2 separate regions of the Homo sapiens genome follow, and region 2 is linked to region 1. The links come from fine-mapping of genetic effects on gene expression. A gene starts in region 1. The other region holds a variant in brackets. All regions are shown on one strand. Distances are between the middles of the regions.

Region 1 (9,908 bases):
TTTTTATATTTTTAGTAGAGACGGGGTTTCTCCACGTTGGTCAGGCTGGTCTCGAACTCCCAACCTCAGGTGATCTGCCCGCCTCAGCCACCCAAAGTGCCAGGATAACAGGCGTGAGCCACTGAGTCCGGCAATTAATAAATCCTTTTTTTTTTTTTTTTTGAGATGGAGTCTCGCTCTGTCGCCCAGGCTGGAGTGCAGTGGCATGATCTCGGCTCACTGCAAGCTCTGCCTCCTGGGTTCACGCCATTCTCCTGACTCAGCCTCCAGATTAGCTGGGACTACAGGCGCCCACCACCACGCCCGGCTAATTTTTTGTATTTTTAGTAGAGACGGGGTTTCACTGTGTTAGCCAGGATGATTGTGAACTCCTGACCTCGTGAACTGCCCTCCTCGGCCTCCCAAAGTGCTGGAATTACAGGCTTGAGCCACTGTGCCCGGCCTAATAAATCTTAATGATGGCTTTTCTTCTGTGAAAACACCTGACCACTGACCCACCAAATCTCCCACAGGAAAAGTAAACTTTGAAGTTACTTTTGTCTTGTTCCCTCTTCCTGGTTGCTAGTTTAATGTAATGTTTTTGCAATAGCTAGACTGCTGTAATATACTGTCAGTGTTTTTCCAATTAAATAGAAACAGAGCTATATAATTATTTTTTTTGACACAGGGTTTCATTCTGTCACCCAGGCTGGAGTGCAGTGGTGCAATGACAGCTCACTGTAGCCTCAACCTCCTGGGCTCAAGCAGTCCTCTCACCTCAGCCTCCTAAGTAGCTGGAACTACATGCGCATGCCACCATGCCCGGGTGTGTGTGTGTGTGTGTGTGTTCAAGCAGTCCTCTCACCTCAGCCTCCTAAGTAGCTGTGTGTGTGTGTGTGTGTGTGCGTGCGCGCGCGCACGCACTCAAGCAGTCCTCTCACCTCAGCCTAAGTAGCTGGAACTACATGCGCATGCCACCATGCCCGGGGTGGGGGTGGGGTGGGGTGTGTGTGTGTGTGTGTGTGTGTGTGTGTGTGTGTGTGTGTGTGTACAGGGTCTCATTATGTTGAGCAGGCTGGTCTTGAACTCCTGGGCTCAAGTGATCCTCCTGCCTTAGTGCTGAGATTGCAGGCATTGAGCCATGGCACCAAGCCAGGGCTATATAATTCTAATATTTTTAAATAATTGTGGCTGGGCACAGTGGCTCATGCCTATGATCCCAGTACTTTGGGAGGCCGAGACAGGGGGAACTGCTTGAGCCCAGGAGTTCCAGCCTGGGCAATGTAGCGATATCCCATCTCTACAAGAAAAATAAAAAACTAGCTGGGCATGGTGGCACACACCAGTAGTCCCAGCTACTCAGAGGCGGAGGTGGGAAGATCACCTGAGCCCAGGAGGTCAAGACTGCAGTGAGCTGTGATCACGTCGCTGCACTCCATCCTTATCTCAAAACAAAAACAAAACTGTAACTTTGGGAAGGTGAGATTATGTCTATACTACTACACCTTTTCACCGCCAACTTTGGAGTCCTTTTCCTCTGTACTTACCTCTGGGAGCACATAGGAGGCTGCAGGAATCAGCAGGTAGGAGGCTGGGACACCAGCATGGACTAGAGAACGTAGTGTGTGCCTTCCTTCCAGCCATGGCCGGCTGTCCACCACTACCACCCGAAACCGCCGGCCCTCTGTCCAAGCCTCCTGAAGAATTCGTGATACCAGAGATGAGCTAGAGTGAATGAAGAGGAGGATTCAGTTATAAATGTCAGTAACTGATGACTAACTTATTCCCAAAGGCAAGTGGGTAGTCCCTTCTTCAGATCATTCCAACTCCCAATCTGCTCAGTCACAAGGTCTGGACCATACCATCCATATACCAGGATCACATCTCCATTACTGATCTTCTGGTAAGCAAAGCGTGAAATTGCCTGAGCTGCTAGCACAATCTTCTCTTGCACATACCGATCAATGGCTGCTCGAAGTTCTGACTTGGCCTAAATGGAGTAAAATCCTTAGTGAACAAGAAATGGACACTTTTATCCCTCTGATGATCATGCCAGGTGCTTGAATATGTGTATGATGACAAGCCTATAGAGGGCTCAGAGATGGCACAAGTCAGAATGGCCAAACCATTCCTTAACCCTTGACTAGGGCAAAAAAAGGCTTACGTTGGCCTTCCCGGGAGTTTTTAACATGTTTCTTAATTTTACCCACAGGTGCATGCCTTCCTTATTTCTCATACTCATCACCTCCTCTTCCCGCTTGGAACTGCCCACACTGGTGATTTCCTTGTTAAGGAACTTGATGGCGTTGTGCATGCTCGCTGACAGGGGACGGCACTGAGTCAGGAAGCTATAATACAACAGCAATACCTTATATCTGCGCAACTCTTCACAACTTACAAAGCCTTCACATTTAAAAAAAAAGTCTTTAAAAAGAAAATAGAACACAAAATGAAAAGAGAGATAGAAAAGCAGGAAAAAGAGTACAAGACAAAGATTGGGCGAGCTGGGAGTGGACTTATAGTGTTGTCCCTACCTCATGTAGGGTTTTAGTTTATTCACTAGATCCCTGGAGAGTTCTTCATTAGGCGGTGTTGTGTAATCCTGAATCACCTATAGGGTACACAAGGTGATCTGCAAAATACCCCTTAATAAAGATCTCTGAACGGGGGCTGGGGGTAAGCTTCACTGAGGAAAATGTTCTGAGGGTAGGAGTATTCCCTCTGTCCCCCAGAGATGACCTTGGGTGACAGAAGCTGGGGTAGTATTGGGGGAGGTGGGGTTGGATCATAAGAGAGAACAGGATGGGACATACCTGCTGCAAGGCACGAAGCAGGGCAATACACCGGGCATTGGAGCCACTGACCAGGCCCTGGGAGTACTGCAGGCCGAGTCGCACCATGGCTGGGTGGATCACAGAGGATGGGATGCTGATGGGATGGCGGTGTCACATACTTTGAAAGGGAGCTTGAGCATCTACTGCCCACCTGCCCCTGATGAAAAGGAACTCCCTTCACTAGCAGATTTCCCCACTCCTCTACAGTTCTGCCTTGGGTTCATACTTTTTCCTACAGAGTCCATCTCAGATTACTAGAAACTTTCAATACTGACTTACTAAAACTCCTCAGACTCAAAAGTTATGACAATTTCATAGGATCCTACCTCATAAACTGGGTCAGAGAGTTTTGTCTGCTGTACTGGGGTAGGTGAGAGAAGAGACTGACTTTGGATCCATAATCCTTTCGTGTAGGAACCTTGACAAAACAAGGGAACAGGACCAATGGCCCAGAGTTTAAAAAGGATGGGATAAAGCTGGAAAGGAAGTGAACAGTAAGACTACTCTGACCCAAGCACCTATCCTTCTCACTTTGCACCCAGCACCTTTCCTCCCTCCAGTCCATTTCCCTAGGCTCTTTCTAGCCAGGCACCAAACCCACTTCCTACCTGTTGACGCTCTGGTTTTTTAACAAGCCTTCTCAGAAGTAGGTCATCAACCTGAGGGTACTCAGGGAGACGCTTCACTCCTGAAAGATAATCATCATGTTTTCAGGACACTGTAGGTCTTGAAATGTGTAATTTGCTCTTAGGGTATAAGGGGCATCAAGAAAAACAGGATGAGGTGGAGAAAACGGGAGAATAGGGTAGAAAAGGAAATAGGGATAGGATAATGGGGTTGCAGGAACAATTCAGAACTCTGGGTCCCAAGAATGAGAGGGGAGAGCTGTTTTACTATTGGGCAGCCTGAGCTGGCGTTATAATTAGGAGTAAGGGAGGTCTTAAAATGAAGGGAAGATACCTGAGGGGGTTTCTCCAGCTGTGCTGGGGCTGGCCTTAGGAGGTGGTCCTCCTTGTTCCCCTTTTCTTGCCTGTTTCAGGGCCCGCTCGGCCTCCTGCTTGGCTCGACGCTCAGCCCGAAGTTCGGCCTTACTCCGACCAGCTGGAACTTTCTCCCGAGGAGTGCCCAACTGAATGCCCGATTCTGGCAGTTCTCTGGTTGGGCCTACTAAAAGCATTAAAAAAAAAAATGCCCAAGCTGCAGGCAGGTGATATCCGTGCCCCAGCTAAAACTAGCTTCTCTCCTTGTAAACCTCTTTGCTTTACACACTTGCTCAAATCAACTTTGTCCTGTCTCTCCCTTATCTCTCCCACCACATCCCTCTACCAGCTCCACACCCCAGCCCTTTAAAAGAGACCCCTCACTCACCTTGACATTGGGCTGCAGATACAGCAGAGCCAGTCTCTGGTTCTGCCCCCTTTTCTTCCTTCCGTTTCTTCTTCTGCTGTTTCTTTTCCTTCCGAAGCTGCAGCTTTTCTTCTTTGGTCATTTCCCTCCCCACTGCCTGAGACACAGACATAGGATACTGCTCTTCCCCAACAATTCCAAAGGGGAACAAATACTATTGGATGCTTACAAGATTTCCACATGGTTAAATCCCTAGTTCTTCCTAACTTCCACAAGCTACCTGTTGCAAGCTTACATCCACAGAGGCTGACGTTTCTCCTCCAGGGACAGAATCATATATCCCTAGGGTTGCAAGACCTCTGTAAAATCTCCTGGCTTTACTGAGAAATAAACCGACACGGGATGGGAGCTGGGGCGGAATAAAGCTGGCACAGCCTCCTGCGTAGCGCTTGGCAGGCGGCTTGGGAGGGAAGCCTCACTTACCCCAGGCCCAGGGGGAAGCTCCGCCTTCATCCCGGATCCCGAGTCTGCATCAGAAAACAGGGCACAAAGTGAGCCAGAGAGACTCCGGGAGGGTTTGGGGGCACGAGTACTCGGCGCAGCCGGCTGCTGGGTTGGCATGACCACGGATCCGCCGGCAGGCGCGAGGCGAGCCAGGGATCCGCGTGGGGACGCACTGCGCGGCGGATCAAAGGAATGGAGGGGTCACCGACCCTCCTCACAGCAACCAGCCGGTGCGCGGCGCGGGACTGCGCTCGAGACTGTGTAGACCGGAGCCCAGCGTGGCGCTGGAACGGAGCGGCGGGGCCCAAAGGCGCTCAAGGCCCGGCACTAGCTGTCCGGAGCTCGTCGGCTCCGCGTACCAGTAGGCAGGCCCGGCTCTTCACTCACCCTCGCGAACAGCCACGGCCACAGCAGCCATCGCCCTCAGTCCTAGGCTCCGCCCGCCGTGGTCACGGAGCCGCCCCGCTGCCTCGCTCCGCGGCTGCAGGGTCCACAGCGCCACCTGGGCTGGAGGCTGAGCCGCAGAAGCGAAGCGCGCAGCCCCAATCGGACTACAATTTCCGACGGGCCCCGAGGCCCCGCCCCGCACTACGGGTTGCAATGAGGGCCAACTCCACTTTGGGCTCCCTATCCGGACAGGTGGCTCTTGCCCTTTAGACTACAGTTCCCAGCATGCCCAGGCGATTGCGTCCCAGAACCGACGTCCCACCGCCTTCCCACATCGGATCGCAGGGCTCCCAAAATGGCGAGTGAGGCTGCGGGGACTCGCTGAGCAGCGGAGGGGGAGCGTGCAGAGCCGCTGCGGCCCTCACAGTCCGGAGCCCGGCCGTGCCGTGCCGTAGGGAACATGCACTTTTCCATTCCCGAAACCGAGTCCCGCAGCGGGGACAGCGGCGGCTCCGCCTACGTGGTGAGGAGCGGCCGGAGCCGAGCCGGGCCGGGCAGGGGCGGGGATAACGGGCCCGAGCCATCTCGGAGCGGCCTCTGAGGCCTGACCGCCACCCTTCGGGCCTGGTCCTGGGCCGCCGACTCCCGACGGCCTCTCTGGGAGCTTATCTCATGTGTGTGATTCGTGCAGTGGTCGCCCGAGCTCCTGTAGGCCCTTAGGCCGGGTCGCTTCCCCGAGCTAGGCCGCAGCTGCCCTGGTGGGCGTCACTGGCCTCTTGGGCAGTGAGACTGCAACACAAGCGTCCGAATTTCCCCCGGACTGGCTCTTCAGCTTTGGGACTTGGCCCTGGCGAAAACAAGCGAACTATCCCTCGGGAGATTAGCGCGTTACTCCGGCGAGTTGCCAGGCAACTTCCGGCCAGGGTTCTCAGGGGGGTTGCGCAGACCGCAACCCTAAAATGCTTGACTACTTTTGTGTCCTCAGGCCTATAACATTCACGTGAATGGAGTCCTGCACTGTCGGGTGCGCTACAGCCAGCTCCTGGGGCTGCACGAGCAGGTGGGACTAGCACCCCTGCCTTGAGACAGCTTCAAGCCCTTCCCTACACGTGGACATCAGTGTCTCCCTTTACCCGCTCTTCTTGTTCCCGTAGGCTGTAGTTCCCCTTTAATCACTGCCACAGGGTAGGGCCCTGGTTTATCTTGTCTGACATTTCCGGGAACTCCCTAAGAAGCTTAATGTCCGCGCAACAACTGCTCCTTCCTGTTCTTATATTCTGGTTTTCTGTCCAGTCTTACTGCTCTAGTAGCCTTTACCCCTGCATGGACAAACCAACCCCTCCCCCCACTACCTCCACCCAGGCTGTCAAAGCACATTCCTTCTGTCATCTGAGCGGCAACTTGAAATTCTTTTCCCTGCTTATACAAACGATTCACCGATTTCCTTTTGTGTTCTTCGGCTCATTTCAGTGTGTTTAGCTGTGCCAATTATCGTTATGTATCTGTGATGCAATGTTTCTCCTCCTTCCTTACCAGATCTTAAACTCTATTTAACTCAGTAGAGCTCCACTGATAATTAGTTGTGCAACCCTGAACAAGTTACCTGATATCTTTTTTTGGGACGGAGTTTCTCTCTTGTTGCCCAGGCTGGAGTGCAGTGGCACGATCTCGGCTCACTGCAACCTCTGCCTCCTGGGTTCAAGCGATTCTCCTTCCTCAGCCTCCTGAGTAGCTGGGATTACAGGCGGCTGCCTCCACACCCAGCTAATTTTTGTATTTTTAGTAGAGAGGGGTTTCACTATGTTGGCCAGGCTGGTCTCAAACTCCTGACCTCAGGTGATCCACCCACCTTGCCTCCCAAAATGCTGAGATTACAGGCATGAGGCCTGTAGAAACTGATTTCTTTGGGCCTCAGTTTCTACAACTGAAAGATGGATTCTTTGATCTGCAAAGTCCCTTTAAGTCCTAAGATATTTTGTGAACAGACTTAGCTATTAACTGTGCACTTTATAAAGCCCTTTCCTTCCTTTAAGGGTTCAGTGAACAGTCTTGCTAGGTGGTCAAGGGGCTCCCTATAGGTCCTGGCCCAGTACAAATCCTCCCCGTACTGTGGAGGGGCTGACTTGTACACAGTAAAATAGAGCACAACTTATATCTAGGACAGCTCCCTTGAGGTGCTACCGCTGTCAAAGGAATTGTTTCTCAGATGACCAGGGTAGACAGGGGAACAGGGACTGAGGGAAGGGAGGGGCACCCAAGAGAACATTATGAGCATATGTAGATTGCCTCATCTCATTTTCTGTGTTTATGTGAAGGGTTGTATCTCTTTCTCTAAATAGCTTCGGAAGGAGTATGGGGCCAATGTGCTTCCTGCATTCCCCCCAAAGAAGCTTTTCTCTCTGACTCCTGCTGAGGTAGAACAGAGGAGAGAGCAGTTAGAGAAGTACATGCAAGCTGGTGAGTGGTTGCAGGAAACTAGGTTGACTATATTGAGGACTATGGGGAGAGACTTAAAAACAGCTGGTTCTGTGGAAGGGCCTGATTTAATTTCTAGATCTAGGAAGGCTCTTGTTTGATCTGTTATGCAGTTAGCAAAGTAAATAGTGTACGAGGATGTGTAACTCTGTGTACTAGCAAAACAATTTGGGCACTAACATCTATGAGAAATACTAGTATAACACTAGTCTTAATATCAGTGGAGAGAACTTAATTTGTATCTGATGTGCTTTAGATTAACATCATTGTTATTTCCCTAGTTCTATAGACTGGACTCACCTAGATGGCAGCCAAGGGTGGGGCAGGTGAAGAATTTATGCAAACAGTGAGTGAGGTGAGGCCAGCTGGGGGATGTGGCAGGCCACCATCAGCCCAGGAAATGGGGTCGGGGGAACCTACTGAGAGGAGGACTGGGGAGCCAAGAGTGAGTGCTAAGTTCCTGTAATAATGTTCTCTTGTCCTCGTAGTTCGGCAAGACCCATTGCTTGGGAGCAGCGAGACTTTCAACAGTTTCCTGCGTCGGGCACAACAGGTAGGGCTTTGGGTGGGACCAAGATTTAAGGAAAGGACCTTGCTGGAAGGTCATGTCTTTTATTTTTTTGAGACAGAGTCTTGCTCTTTTGCACAGGCTGGAGTGCAGTGGTGCGATCTCAGCTCACTGCAATCTCCGCCTCCCGGATTCAAGCGATTCTCCTGCCTCAGCCTCCCAAGTAGCTAGAATTACAGGCGCCTGCCACCATGTCCGGCTCATTTTTGTATTTTTAGTGGAGACGGGGTTTTGCCGTGTTGGCCTGGCTGGTCTCGAACTCCTGACCTCAGGTGATCCACCCGCCTTGGCCTCCCAAAGTGCTGGGATTACGGGTGTGAGCCACCACACCCAGCCAGGCCATGTCATCTTAATAACAGAGGAGTCATCTTTTTTAATGGAATGGAACTTCTATTCTTATGAAATCAAAGAAATCACAGCCTATATTTAAGCAGCTGAGAATAAAGACACACAAGGGACCTAGAAATAGAGTTGGGCATAGGTCAAGGCAAGGGACAAGGCAGTGCTTCCCATCCCCATGTGTGCTCACAACAGGAGACACAGCAGGTCCCCACAGAGGAAGTGTCCTTGGAAGTGCTGCTCAGCAACGGGCAGAAAGTTCTGGTCAACGTGCTAACTTCAGATCAGACTGAGGATGTCCTGGAGGTGAGGCGCTTGTTCAGCACTGCCCCTTCTTCCCCTACATCCTGGGGTCCTGGGCTTGGAGAATGATTGGAACCAGCCAGTATGATGAGCTGTACTTCTATCCCTATCCCCAGGCTGTAGCTGCAAAGCTGGATCTTCCAGATGACTTGATTGGATACTTTAGTCTATTCTTAGTTCGAGAAAAAGAGGATGGAGCCTTTTCTTGTGAGTTTCTCTGGACTTGACTGCAGTACAAGGGTACTTCAGTAGAGTTTGCAGCCCCCCTAACTCCCCACCCCCACCCCCAGAATGAACATTGCCTCAGGGCACTTCTTTCTTGATTTCCCTTCCTTTAAATCTCACTATATTTTCATTTTTTTTTTTTTAACCTGTAGTTGTACGGAAGTTGCAAGAGTTTGAGCTGCCTTATGTGTCTGTCACCAGCCTTCGGAGTCAAGAGTATAAGATTGTGCTAAGGAAGAGGTCAGGGCTGGGCCTGGAAGGGGAGGGGTGGGAGGTGCTGTGCTGGATTGGATTATTGGGCCACATATTGAGACAGAATAATCTGGACAAGGGGGTGTAGTGCTGGGTGTTTCTGCCAGGCCTCCCAAGCTTCCTCCCACTATACCATTAGCCCCTGATAGTTCCAGATTGCTCCTGTTTTGCCCATTTTCCATTCTACCTCTTGCCTTAACCCAGCTTAGCCCCATTACCCCTTTCCACCCCTTGGCCTCACAGTTATTGGGACTCTGCCTATGATGACGATGTCATGGAGAACCGGGTTGGCCTGAACCTGCTTTATGCTCAGGTGAGCTTGGAGCTGCCTCAGAACCCTTCCCCTGAAGAAAATAACGGGTGACTCACTCTCCCAAGAAAACTGCTGTCGTGTCTTTGTTCCCAATTTGTGGGGAAGTTCCTAGAATACTATCAGTGCTGCTGGCACAATATCTACTCTCCCTACTTTTATTAAGCTGACAAGATCAAGGACTTACTGCAGAGAGGTCGCTCAAGTGTGGGGCTAGGGGTCAGGCTGGACAGAGGTAATGGTAGACGCTTTCCTTGGATTGCTGACTGGGACCTCCTACTGCCTGCCCCTTGTCTCTACTATAGACGGTATCAGATATTGAGCGTGGGTGGATCTTGGTCACCAAGGAACAGCACCGGCAACTCAAATCTCTGCAAGAGAAAGT
Region 2 (10,274 bases), 120 kb before region 1:
CTGGCCGCCAAGCACTGCCGGAGGCCAGTGATCAATGCTGGGGATGGGGTCGGAGAGCACCCCACCCAGGCCCTGCTGGACATCTTCACCATCCGTGAGGAGCTGGGAACTGTCAATGGCATGACGGTGAGGGTGGTGGCAGGGTTTGGATCCCTGCCAGGGGACGATCTAGAGAGGGAGGCAGGAAGTGGTTACCCCGGTACAGGACAGCTGCATCAAGGAGGCCTTCATTCTGCTCCAGAGGCTTTTAAAAGCTTGGAAATGATGTCGGGGGGCACTCAGTCTGGGATCCCTGTGGTGACTGGATTCCTCTCCTAGATCACGATGGTGGGTGACCTGAAGCACGGACGCACAGTACATTCCCTGGCCTGCCTGCTCACCCAGTATCGTGTCAGCCTGCGCTACGTGGCACCTCCCAGCCTGCGCATGCCACCCACTGTGCGGGCCTTCGTGGCCTCCCGCGGCACCAAGCAGGTGAGACCCTCACAGCCCTGCCTGGAAGCCATGGAGATGTGGGTTGGGCAGTCAGAGCCCAGCGCTGCATCCACCATGGCTCTCCTCACCCTCCAGGAGGAATTCGAGAGCATTGAGGAGGCGCTGCCTGACACTGATGTGCTCTACATGACTCGAATCCAGAAGGAACGATTTGGCTCTACCCAGGAGTACGAAGCTGTGAGTGCTGGGCTTGAGGAAGAAGCCAGGGCTGCTGCCGTAGGGCATCAGATATGAGGACAGAAAGGCTGGGCTGAGGGCTGGGTCAGAGCTGTTAAACTTCACATCTGTCAATTGCCATAGCTGCATGTGGGTGTGGAGGGGACCCCAGTGGAGCCCAGACTTGTGTCCTCTGTAGCCACTCCTACCCCAAGGCACTAATGGGGACCCCATCTGCTTTGCAGTGCTTTGGTCAGTTCATCCTCACTCCCCACATCATGACCCGGGCCAAGAAGAAGATGGTGGTGATGCACCCGATGCCCCGTGTCAACGAGATAAGGTGGTGCAGCATCAGAGTCAGAGACTGCCTCGGGGCTGGTGGACGGGAGGAGACTTAGTCCTGGACAAGCCATCCATGGGCTGCACGATAACACTTCCTTTTTTTTTTTTTTTTTTTTTGCAGCGTGGAAGTGGACTCGGATCCCCGCGCAGCCTACTTCCGCCAGGCTGAGAACGGCATGTACATCCGCATGGCTCTGTTAGCCACCGTGCTGGGCCGTTTCTAGGGCCTGGCTTCCTCAGCCTCTTCTCTTTAGGCCCAGCTGCTGGGCAAGGAATTCCAGTGCCTCCTACGGGGGCAGCACACTTAGATATTCCTGGACATCCAGATAGCTCACATGTGCTGACCACACTTCAGGCTCTGGACTGGAGCTCTCTGGCATGGGGGTGGGGCCTCAGATGCTGGGGCCCAGTCTGCCCCATCTTCATTCCTGCACCTTAAACCTGTACAGTCATTTTTCTACTGACTTAATAAACAGCCGAGCTGTCCCTTGATGCTGAGTGTAGTAGAACAGAGCTTTCTTTTAGAAAATTGAGCAGATTCCCAAATTATAAGAGCAGCCTCACCAGGCAGGGCTCTGGCTAGGGCTGCGTGCCCACACTCGGCATTTTCACACTCGTGACTCTTTGGGACTCGGCAGGAGCGTGTTAACTCTGTGCTCTCTGAGTCCTGTGTCGTGCTGATGCCAGCGCTTACCTGGGGGCTCTGGCTGGTGTCCAGCCCTCCTTCCTCAATTCAGTTGACTCAAAGACCTGACAGAGAGTTCTGCCCTCTTCCTGACACTGGGAGAACACTCATCAGGGTAAAAGGAAGGCTGAGCACTGCGGCCTGTCTGAGGCCAGGCCTGGACTCTTCCTCACTCTTTCTGGTTAGTCCTCCTCCAGTGGCTAAGGCTGCCATTGCATTCTCAAAACCACCCTGGAGTTCTTCAGCCACTGTCACTATTAGGAGCCCCTCCTATTTCCCATCCCTGGGAGCCTCTGCCTGACATTGGACAGAGGGGCAGATGCCATGGAGGGCTGAGGAGCACTTTGGCTTGGAGACCCCAGGGCAGCAGCCTAAGGGCAGTAGCTTATGTGTCTGTGGGTGAGGGCTTCTGAGGAGCAGCTGTGCCCTCCAGTGAACTTGAGTAGCATTGGAGAAATCTCATTTCTTGTTCCAACAAAACTTAGCACTCTGTGGGTACAAAGCACCATGTGCAGTGGGAGTACAAGGAAGAACAAGGCAATTCTCACCCTCAGTTTTCAGCCTCGGGTCATAAGGCTTCCAGTGGCTTCTACAGATTAAACTGCTGCACACTGGCACATGATAGTGCAAACTGCTCTGACACCATTCAGGAATCACCTACTTCATCCAGAGAGTAACAGCGTATTCTAGAGATGAGAAAAGGAGAAGGACCTCGTTTTTTGAGAACTTAGTGTGAACAGGAACTTGATGCGTATTCTCATTTCTCACACCAGCCTTCCACCCATTTCACAGATGTGGACACTGGCTCAGAGAAGTGGTGGGGGCCGGTGGCTCACCCCTGTAATCTCAGCATTTTGGGAGGCTGAGGCAGGCGGATCACCTGAGGTCAGGAGTTTGAGACCAGCCTGGCCAACATGGTGAAACCCTGTCGACTAAAAATATAAAAATCAGCTGTGTTTGGTGGTGTGCGCCTGTAATCCCAGCTACTTGGGAGGCTGAGGCAGGAGAATCGCTTGAACCCAGGAGGTGGAGGTTGCAGTGAGGCAAGATGGCACCATTACACTCCAGCCTGGGCAACAGTGACACTCTTATCTCCAAAAAAAAAAAAAAAGGTGGTAGCTTGCTGGGCCACTCACCTTGAGACTCATACGCAGGACTTCTTGACTTAACAACCCACCTTTCTGTTAAAAGGAAAGGTCATTTCTGGCTTTAAGGGCATCCAAAAACCAGTGGGAAAGACAAGCCACAAATCTAAGCAGTCCTGTAGGGAACCAGTTTCCAGAAGAGGTCAGCACAGATACGGAGTCGGAGAACCCTGTGCCGTGGGGTGTGAGCTGTGTCGTGAGGAAGGACGAAGAGTCTCCTTTACAGTACAGTTCGAGAGGAATGGAAATTGTGTCTGCGGTACAGTGAGGAGACACTGAACGCAGCAGGAGATTCCTACTGAGTATTGTGAGGGTTGAGAGTCTGACGGACCAGAACAGGGGGCTTGGATGTCAATTCCAACAAAAATATTAATTTACAACCACAGGTACTATTTGAAGGAGGGTATTAAGTATAATGCTAAGTCCTAGAGTGTGGAGGCCTCCAGTCCTGCTAATGTTAACCCTTTCCAGTCTTTCCAAACCCAGATTCCTGCCTGACAAGGTCTCCCTCAGGTACCTGGAGGACTTTATTGGTTGGAAAATAGAGTACCATTTCCAGAACTCTTCTTTTTCTTTCTAGAGACTCCATTTCCTTGCTTAAACTCTTAGAACAAGTCAGAGATTATTTTCCCAATTGTACTCATGAGTACTTGGGACTCGCACACAGATTCCCACAGAACTTGGATAGCCTCACCCTCAAGTAGAAGCAGTGTTTTCTGCCAAGTAGCGGACGCATTTTACTTAGTTGCTAAGTGGTGGGAGATGTTCCTGTCCTGAGCCTTTCTTTGGCTCTCCTAATCATAGCTCAGCTCTGAGTTGAATAAAGTTTTTTCCCGTATGACCAGAAAGTAAATCTCATTATATTGGGAAACAAAATGAAAAAACTTACCAGCAAAAACCAAAATTAGCCCTTTATTTTTTAAAATTTTTATCGTTTTGAGATGGCATCTCGCTCTGTTGCCCAGGCTGGAGTGCAGTGGTGCAATCTTGGCTCACTGCAACCTCCGCCTCCCAGGTTCAAGTGATTCTCCTGCCTCAGTCTCCCGAGTAACTGGGACTACAGACATGTGCTACCACACCCAGCTAACTTTTTGTATTTTTAGTAGAGATGGGGTTTTGCCATGTTGGCTAGGCTGGTGTTGAACTCCTGACTTCAAGTGATCTGCCCGCCTCAGCCTCCCAAAGTGCTAGGATTACAGGCATGAGCCACCGCACCCAGCCAAAATTAGCCCTTTAATACAATACCTTTGGGCCTGTTCCACATCCACTGAGAAACAACTTCATATCTGCCATGTAATTGTCATGAAGCATAAAAAGTTAGTTTGCTTCCTGAGGTACTTAAGAGGTTTGATCTATTTCTTCTATAAGAAACATTTATATGCCAAGCACTGTTCTAAGCGCTTTACAGATACATCCCTTTGACACTTGGATGAATCCTTTGACTATCCCCCACCTTGAAAGAAGTGTGGCTAACGTTGGGTTGCTATTACAGCCATTTTCTCCCACCTCTTCACTGTCCACCCTAGTGAAGGAGACATCCCCCTCAACATAGGTAGTCCACCGGGAGCTTTGTCAGCTGCACTCTAGTCCTGGCCCTTACAACTAACTACCTGCAACCATGGCAAGTCAGTATGCCTGTGGGCTTTTATTTTTTATACTAAAATTTTGTTTTTGAGACAGGGTCTCATTCTGTCACCCAGGCTGGAGTGCAGTGGC[A/G]CGATCTCAGCTCACTGCAGCCTTGACCTCATGGGCTCAAGTGATCCTCCCACTTAAGCCTCCCAAGGAGGTGGGACCACCATGGCCATACCACCATGCCCGGCTAATTTTTTGTGTTTTTTTTGTAGAGATGGGGTTTTGCCATGTCGTCCAGGCTGGTCTCAAACTCCTGGAGTCAAGTTATCCTCCCCACTCAGCCTCCAGAATAGCTGGGACCACAGGCACATGCCACCACACCTGGCTAATTTTTGTTCTTGTTTTGTTTTATAGAGATGGGGATTCGCCATGTTGCCCAGGCTGGCCTATTACTTTTTTTTTTTTTTTTTTTTTTTTTGAGACGGAGTCTTGCTCTGTTGCCCAGGCTGGAGTGCAGTGGCGCGATCTTGGCTCACCGCAAGCTCCGCCTCCCGGGTTCACGCCATTCTCCTGCCTCAGCCTCTCCGAGTAGCTGGGACTACAGGCACCTGCCACCACGCCCGGCTAATTTTTTGTATTTTTAGTAGAGATGGGGTTTCACCGTGGTCTCGATCTCCTGACCTCGTGATCCGCCCGCCTCAGCCTCCCAAAGTGCTGGGATTACAAGCATGAGCCACCGCGCCCGGCCAGGCTGGTCTATTCCTGGGCTCAAGTGATCCTCCTGCATCAGCCTCCTAAAGTGCTGGGATTACAGCCATGAGCCACCATGCCCAACCCACCTATAGGCTTTAAAAGGGTAGTTGGCAATTCCCAGTGTAAAATTGCAAAGTGTCTGTAGTTCTGCAGTAATATCCCCTGGGACAATGAGGGGGCATTGGCTGGTGGAGGTGAGGAGCAGAGAATGAGGGCCAGGATGGGATGAGTGCTTAATGGAAGACTCGTCTGGCAACAGTGCCTAGAAGAGAGAAAGGAGCCATTTCACCATCAGGACGCCAATTAGGAAGTTGTTGCAGTAAATACAGATCATGGGTGAAGAGGTTCTAGATTCAGAGATAGGAATAGATGTTATAACACTGAGGAGAGAGGAGAGTGAAGAATGACTGCACAGTGTGGGACCTCAAGACTGGAAGAAAGAAGACTGATGAAGGTAGACCAGATAGCCAGTTTGGGGTAGGGGAGGGCTGATTCCATTTGGGCATGATACCTAGCTGCCGTGGGCCATCTATATGGAGATGTCATGGAGGTAATGGAGCTGGGGAGTTGGAGCAAGCACAATAGAGACAGGTGGCATTTATATGTGACAACACAAGTGCCATGAGAGCAGGGACTTTACTCACTGATGTATCCCAAACACCAGAACAGGGTTGAGCACATAGTAGGTGCTCAGTAAATGTGTTGACCGAAGCATCAACATAAAGGTAATTGAAGCTTTTAAAATATGCATATTTGTTCACCAAGAGAATAGCGGCAAGCCTCAATTTCAGCAAGGGCCGCAGGAGAACTCAGGAGAAAGCCCTCAAGAGGCCCAGAATTCCAAGTGTGTGAGGGACGGGAGACGTATTGGCAGATTCAAATCCTGTAGCAGGCCAAAGAGAAGGAAATTTGAGGCAAGGACCTTGTCACAATAGTTGTTAGGCTGATGCTTTGTGGTGGTAACCAGGTTTCACGAGGTTACTGAGGGACTGGTTTAGAAGCTGAGGTCATTTACCAAGTGGCAAGGAAAAAAATGGGTGTTGAGATTGGGAGCTCAAAGGCTTTAGAGAAGGTCAGGGAAGCTGTGATGAATCCGCAGGAGATTAATAGAGTCACAAGCAGGACTCAAGGGGAAGCTAAACACTGAATTTGTGGTGGGGCTGGGGGAAGCCATGTCCAGGGCAGGGGCGTAGAAGGGCTTGCACTCCCTGGAGGACCCAAGAAATAGAAATGAGCTGGCCGGGCGCGGTGGCTCACGCCTGTAATCCCAGCACTTTGGGAGGCCGAGACGGGCGGATCACGAGGTCAGGAGATCGAGACCATCCTGGCTAACACAGTGAAACCCCATCTCTACTAAAAATGCAAAAAAAATTAGCCGGGTGTGGTGGCAGGCACCTGTAGTCCCAGCTACTCGGGAGGCTGAGGCAGGAGAATGGTGTGAATCCGGGAGGCGGAGCTTGCAGTGAGCCAAGATCACGCCACTGCACGCCAGCCTGGGCGACAGAGCGAGACTCCATCTCAAAAAAAAAAAAAAAAGAAAAGAAATAGAAGTGACTGCCTGCTTGAGAGCACCTGAATTGCTACCATCAAATGCTACCATCAGATACAGATTTATACCTCGGGAATCAGCATGTATGAAACCTGCTTGTTGGCCCATTGGTAGGAGCTGGGGATTAGAAGATATTTTATGGACTTTGCATTGGCCTGACATTTATCTGTTCACCATCCTTCCACCCATTCCTTCCATCACCAGCAGTCATACTGAGCATGTACTTGGTGTCTGGCTGTGAGCTAAGTGCTGGGGGAGCATGCCTTCCTTCAAGGAGTGTGCCGTCAGTAGGCCACTCACCGTTTTACTGTGTCTCCCAGCAGTCCTGTGTGACCACGTCCTGGTCCAGCAGGATGGGGGAAAGCAGGGAGGCCATGCTTGGGCAGACTCCGTGGTCAGGAAAAAGCAAGTTTGTTGTTGTAGGGTCTGAACCCTGCTTATTTTGGTAAGCTTTCTTATCTTTTTAATATTCTGGGTTCAGTTCCCTTCTATTTCTCCCCAGGCTTTTGGCTACAGTCCTTTAAAAATTTATAGCCATCGTTGTTGAGCCAAAGCAAACAAAAGAATGGAATCGGAGGTTAAGGCTGTTTGGGTCGTGTCCTCTGAGTGAGCTTCTCCAGGTCTGGGCTTCTTCCTGTCCCCAGGATGCTGTAGCCAGAGAGCAGATGAGGGGGTCTGGGGTACCACACGGGGAATGGCAAGAGCAGAGAAAGGCTAGGACCAGGGCTGAAGGAGGGAGGCACAGGCTCTGGCAACCCGGGCCTTCCTGCCTACCCACTCTCCCCACGTTCTTTCTCTTGCCAGTTAAGGAAACGGGGCCTGCTTTGTGTATGGGATTGCTGGTGATCACAGCTGCATCTGGGGGTGTGGTGGTATACACGTGGAGTCCCAGCTGCTCAGGAAGCCGAGGCAGGAGGATTGCTTGAGCCCAGGAGTTTGAGGCTAGCCTGGGCAGCATAGCAAGACCCCATCTCAAAAAAGGAAAAAGCCCCCACACAGCTGCATCTGGGGCCTCAGGCTTTGCCCTGTTGGGGCCTGGGAACTGCCCCTCCAAGCACCCCTTGGAAGGTACTGACCAGGTACTGACGAGGTGTCCCTGGGACTTAAGCCAGGGACAGGGAGGCCCTGGGAACTGCCAGAGTTGGGGGAAGGGAGGTTGGAGAGTTAAGAAAGAGTACTCCAACTATAAAAGGAACACCCTGACTACAGTTCTCCACAGTGAGGGTCTCTGCCTGGCGGAGGGGAAAAGGGTCTTCCCGTCCTGACCCCAGTCCTGAGACTCCCTGCAAAGACTTCCGGCTGCCTCTGCCGCTGCGGTGGCGTATGCCCCAGTTGGGGGCGCTGCTCCCCAGCCAGCCGGGCTCTAGGAAGCGGGAGGGCCAAATGCCTCCTTTAAGCCGGCTGCACCGGGGCCCTGACCGGGCGGGAGGGCTGCTGGAGGGTGGTGCTTATCACCCGGGCTTCCTCTTGACCCTGCCGGCTGGGCCCTGGGCCTTGGCCTTCGCCTCTTAAACGTGGTGCAGGACTCACCCTGGGCCACCCCCAGGTGGGCAGCCTTGGGAGAAGGGCAGGACCTGCCCATGTGCCCATGCTCCTCCGCCCAGTCACTGCAGCACGAAGCCTCTCAGGTCCGCACCCTGCATTCTGGCCCTTTGATCTCCAGTTTCTCCTTTGAATAGCCCTGCAGCTCTCAGCAGGGAAACCCGGCCTGCCTCTCTCTCCCTCCACTCTCCATTTCACCCCTTTCCTGGCTGTCCCTCTTCTCTGGTTCCTCTCTGACCCGAAAGCCCACCCCTCCCCTAGTTAATCAGCTGTGTAAAGAGCTGGGGCTGGGCTGAGGGATGGGCCCTCCCCCACCTGCGTTGCTCTCCCCTGCCTTCCCCTCACCCCTCCCAGGCCCAGTCCCTTCCCCTCGACTCTCCCTCCTCCATCTATCATCAAGGAAGGGCACCCAGGGGAAAGGGACTTCTGGATAAGCGAGTGGAGAAGGAGGATAGGAGGATAATGGGGGAGTGCAGGCAGCTCTGCAGATAAGGATTTCCTGGGCTCCCGGGGATGGTGGCCCAGTGTGAAGGTGGGAGAATGCTCCAGAGACCTGTCTCCTCATCCTCCCGATGCCCGAAGGTGAGTGGAAAGGCAGGATGGCATAGAGAGAGGGCTGGGGACGTCCAGGGGCCAGAACTCAGAACCGAGTGGAACCAGCTGCACGACCATGGGCAGGTGAGCCTGCTTCTCCATCTGTCAGGTGCACAGGATACTGTCCGCACCACAGTGCCTTGCACAAAATAAGCTCAATGATTGCTGCTTCCTGTCCCTGCTGTCAGGGTGCCGGGCCACTCTCTTCTCCTGAAATCTCTCCCCTGCATCCTGGGTTCAACCCAAAAGCTAACTCTTATATACACCTTCTATATACCAGGCACATTCACACCCATGATATCACGTAATCACTATTTTATAATTGAGAAAGCTGAGACGCAGAGAGGTTAACTGTGACTAGAATAATAGTAAAGGCAGAGCAGAACCAGAGGGTCTGACCCCAGAGCCCCAGGACGGGAGTGCCAGCGGCAGCAGGCTGCTGGAAGGGCTGAGGAAAGATTTGCTGAGAAACTCAACTAGGCAAGAGCTTCAAAGGGGCCTGGAGTGGGAATGAGAGCCTGGGCATGTGCTGGCTGACCCTGGGGAAGTCTTTTTCCCTCCCTGAGTCTCCTCCTTCTATGGGCAGAAGATGGACTGGATGCTTGGTGAAGGCATTCACCTGCCCTGAGCATTCCCCTGCAAAGGGACCCAGCATCGCACAGATAGGACAGGCTGTGGCTTAAAGCATTTCATAGGGTGAAAATCGAGTCCTCCTGTTCCCCACCCTCCTTCCCTCTCCTCGATTTCCTCACTCTTCCCCACCCCCATCCTGTCACCTGGGGCCTATAATCAATGAGACGTAAAATGAGAAAGTATCAGGAACCAGCAAAGCATGGCGAGCAGCTGGGGCGGCCTTGCCGCCGGGCGTGATGGACTGCCAGCCCTTCGCTTCGCCAGCCTCCCACACCCTGACGTGGGCAGTGGCGTCTCACCCAGCCTGGGCTAAGGCTCCCAGCTGGACATCAGGGAGGGGGCTACCTCTGATGAGTCCAAAAGCCTCACCTTTAAAAAGGAATGAAATCTATGGTCTTGACATGGAAAGATGAGTCTAGGCTGCATGGTTGAGTCATAAACACAGGTAACACGATCTCACCTATAAGATGACCCCATTTTTGTTATTATGTAGAAATACTGACCCCATACTAGGATTAGCAGTTTTCTCGGAAAGTAAGATTACAGGGGAAACATTCACTTTCTACTTTATATACTTTTCCTTTGTTGTACCCTTAAAACAAGTATATATTGCTTTTATAGTAAAAATAATCTGATAATAAAGATATTTCTATTATGAGGAAGGCTCACAGAAATATGCATGGGCTATTGAAAATGCTCAACGTCCTTGCTTTGGGCTGGGATTTTATCAACATGGTGGGAAGGCCTGAAGCACTAGATCTAAAATCAAAGCACAGAGTCTAATTTTTTTTTTTTTTTTTAAGACAGA

What was found. PIP is the estimated chance that this variant, and not a neighbour inherited with it, causes the effect.
Region 2: its variant is fine-mapped to the expression of SNX17 in whole blood (INTERVAL, PIP above 0.99).

What each region holds. Positions count from the first base shown.
Region 1 is chr2:27,365,233-27,375,140 of GRCh38, forward strand. It overlaps SNX17 (sorting nexin 17), which reads left to right and starts at 5,384. Exons shown (of 15, transcript NM_014748.4): 1 at 5,384-5,574; 2 at 6,037-6,111; 3 at 7,391-7,508; 4 at 8,015-8,079; 5 at 8,629-8,739; 6 at 8,853-8,943; 7 at 9,114-9,201; 8 at 9,457-9,526; 9 at 9,829-9,908. The coding sequence starts at 5,512. It overlaps EIF2B4 (eukaryotic translation initiation factor 2B subunit delta), which reads right to left and starts at 5,106. Exons shown (of 13, transcript NM_001034116.2): 1 at 5,052-5,106; 2 at 4,644-4,687; 3 at 4,182-4,317; 4 at 3,774-3,980; 5 at 3,422-3,501; 6 at 3,140-3,231; 7 at 2,793-2,907; 8 at 2,514-2,590; 9 at 2,225-2,327; 10 at 1,842-1,969; 11 at 1,527-1,704. The coding sequence starts at 5,082. It overlaps GTF3C2-AS2 (GTF3C2 antisense RNA 2), which reads left to right. Exons shown (of 4, transcript NR_183827.1): 4 at 2,192-2,648. RefSeq lists enhancers at 4,352-5,313, 4,787-5,066, 5,287-5,376, 5,314-6,275, 5,397-5,456 and 1 more.
Region 2 is chr2:27,242,302-27,252,575 of GRCh38, forward strand. It overlaps CAD (carbamoyl-phosphate synthetase 2, aspartate transcarbamylase, and dihydroorotase), which reads left to right. Exons shown (of 44, transcript NM_004341.5): 40 at 1-126; 41 at 319-474; 42 at 571-672; 43 at 897-991; 44 at 1,115-1,642. The coding sequence ends at 1,217. Among named protein-coding and RNA genes, the nearest start is that of SLC30A3, 16 kb to the right of the region's middle. RefSeq lists enhancers at 336-1,535, 7,157-7,951, 7,952-8,745 and a silencer at 7,581-7,761. The variant A/G (reference allele first, on the strand shown) is at 4,540.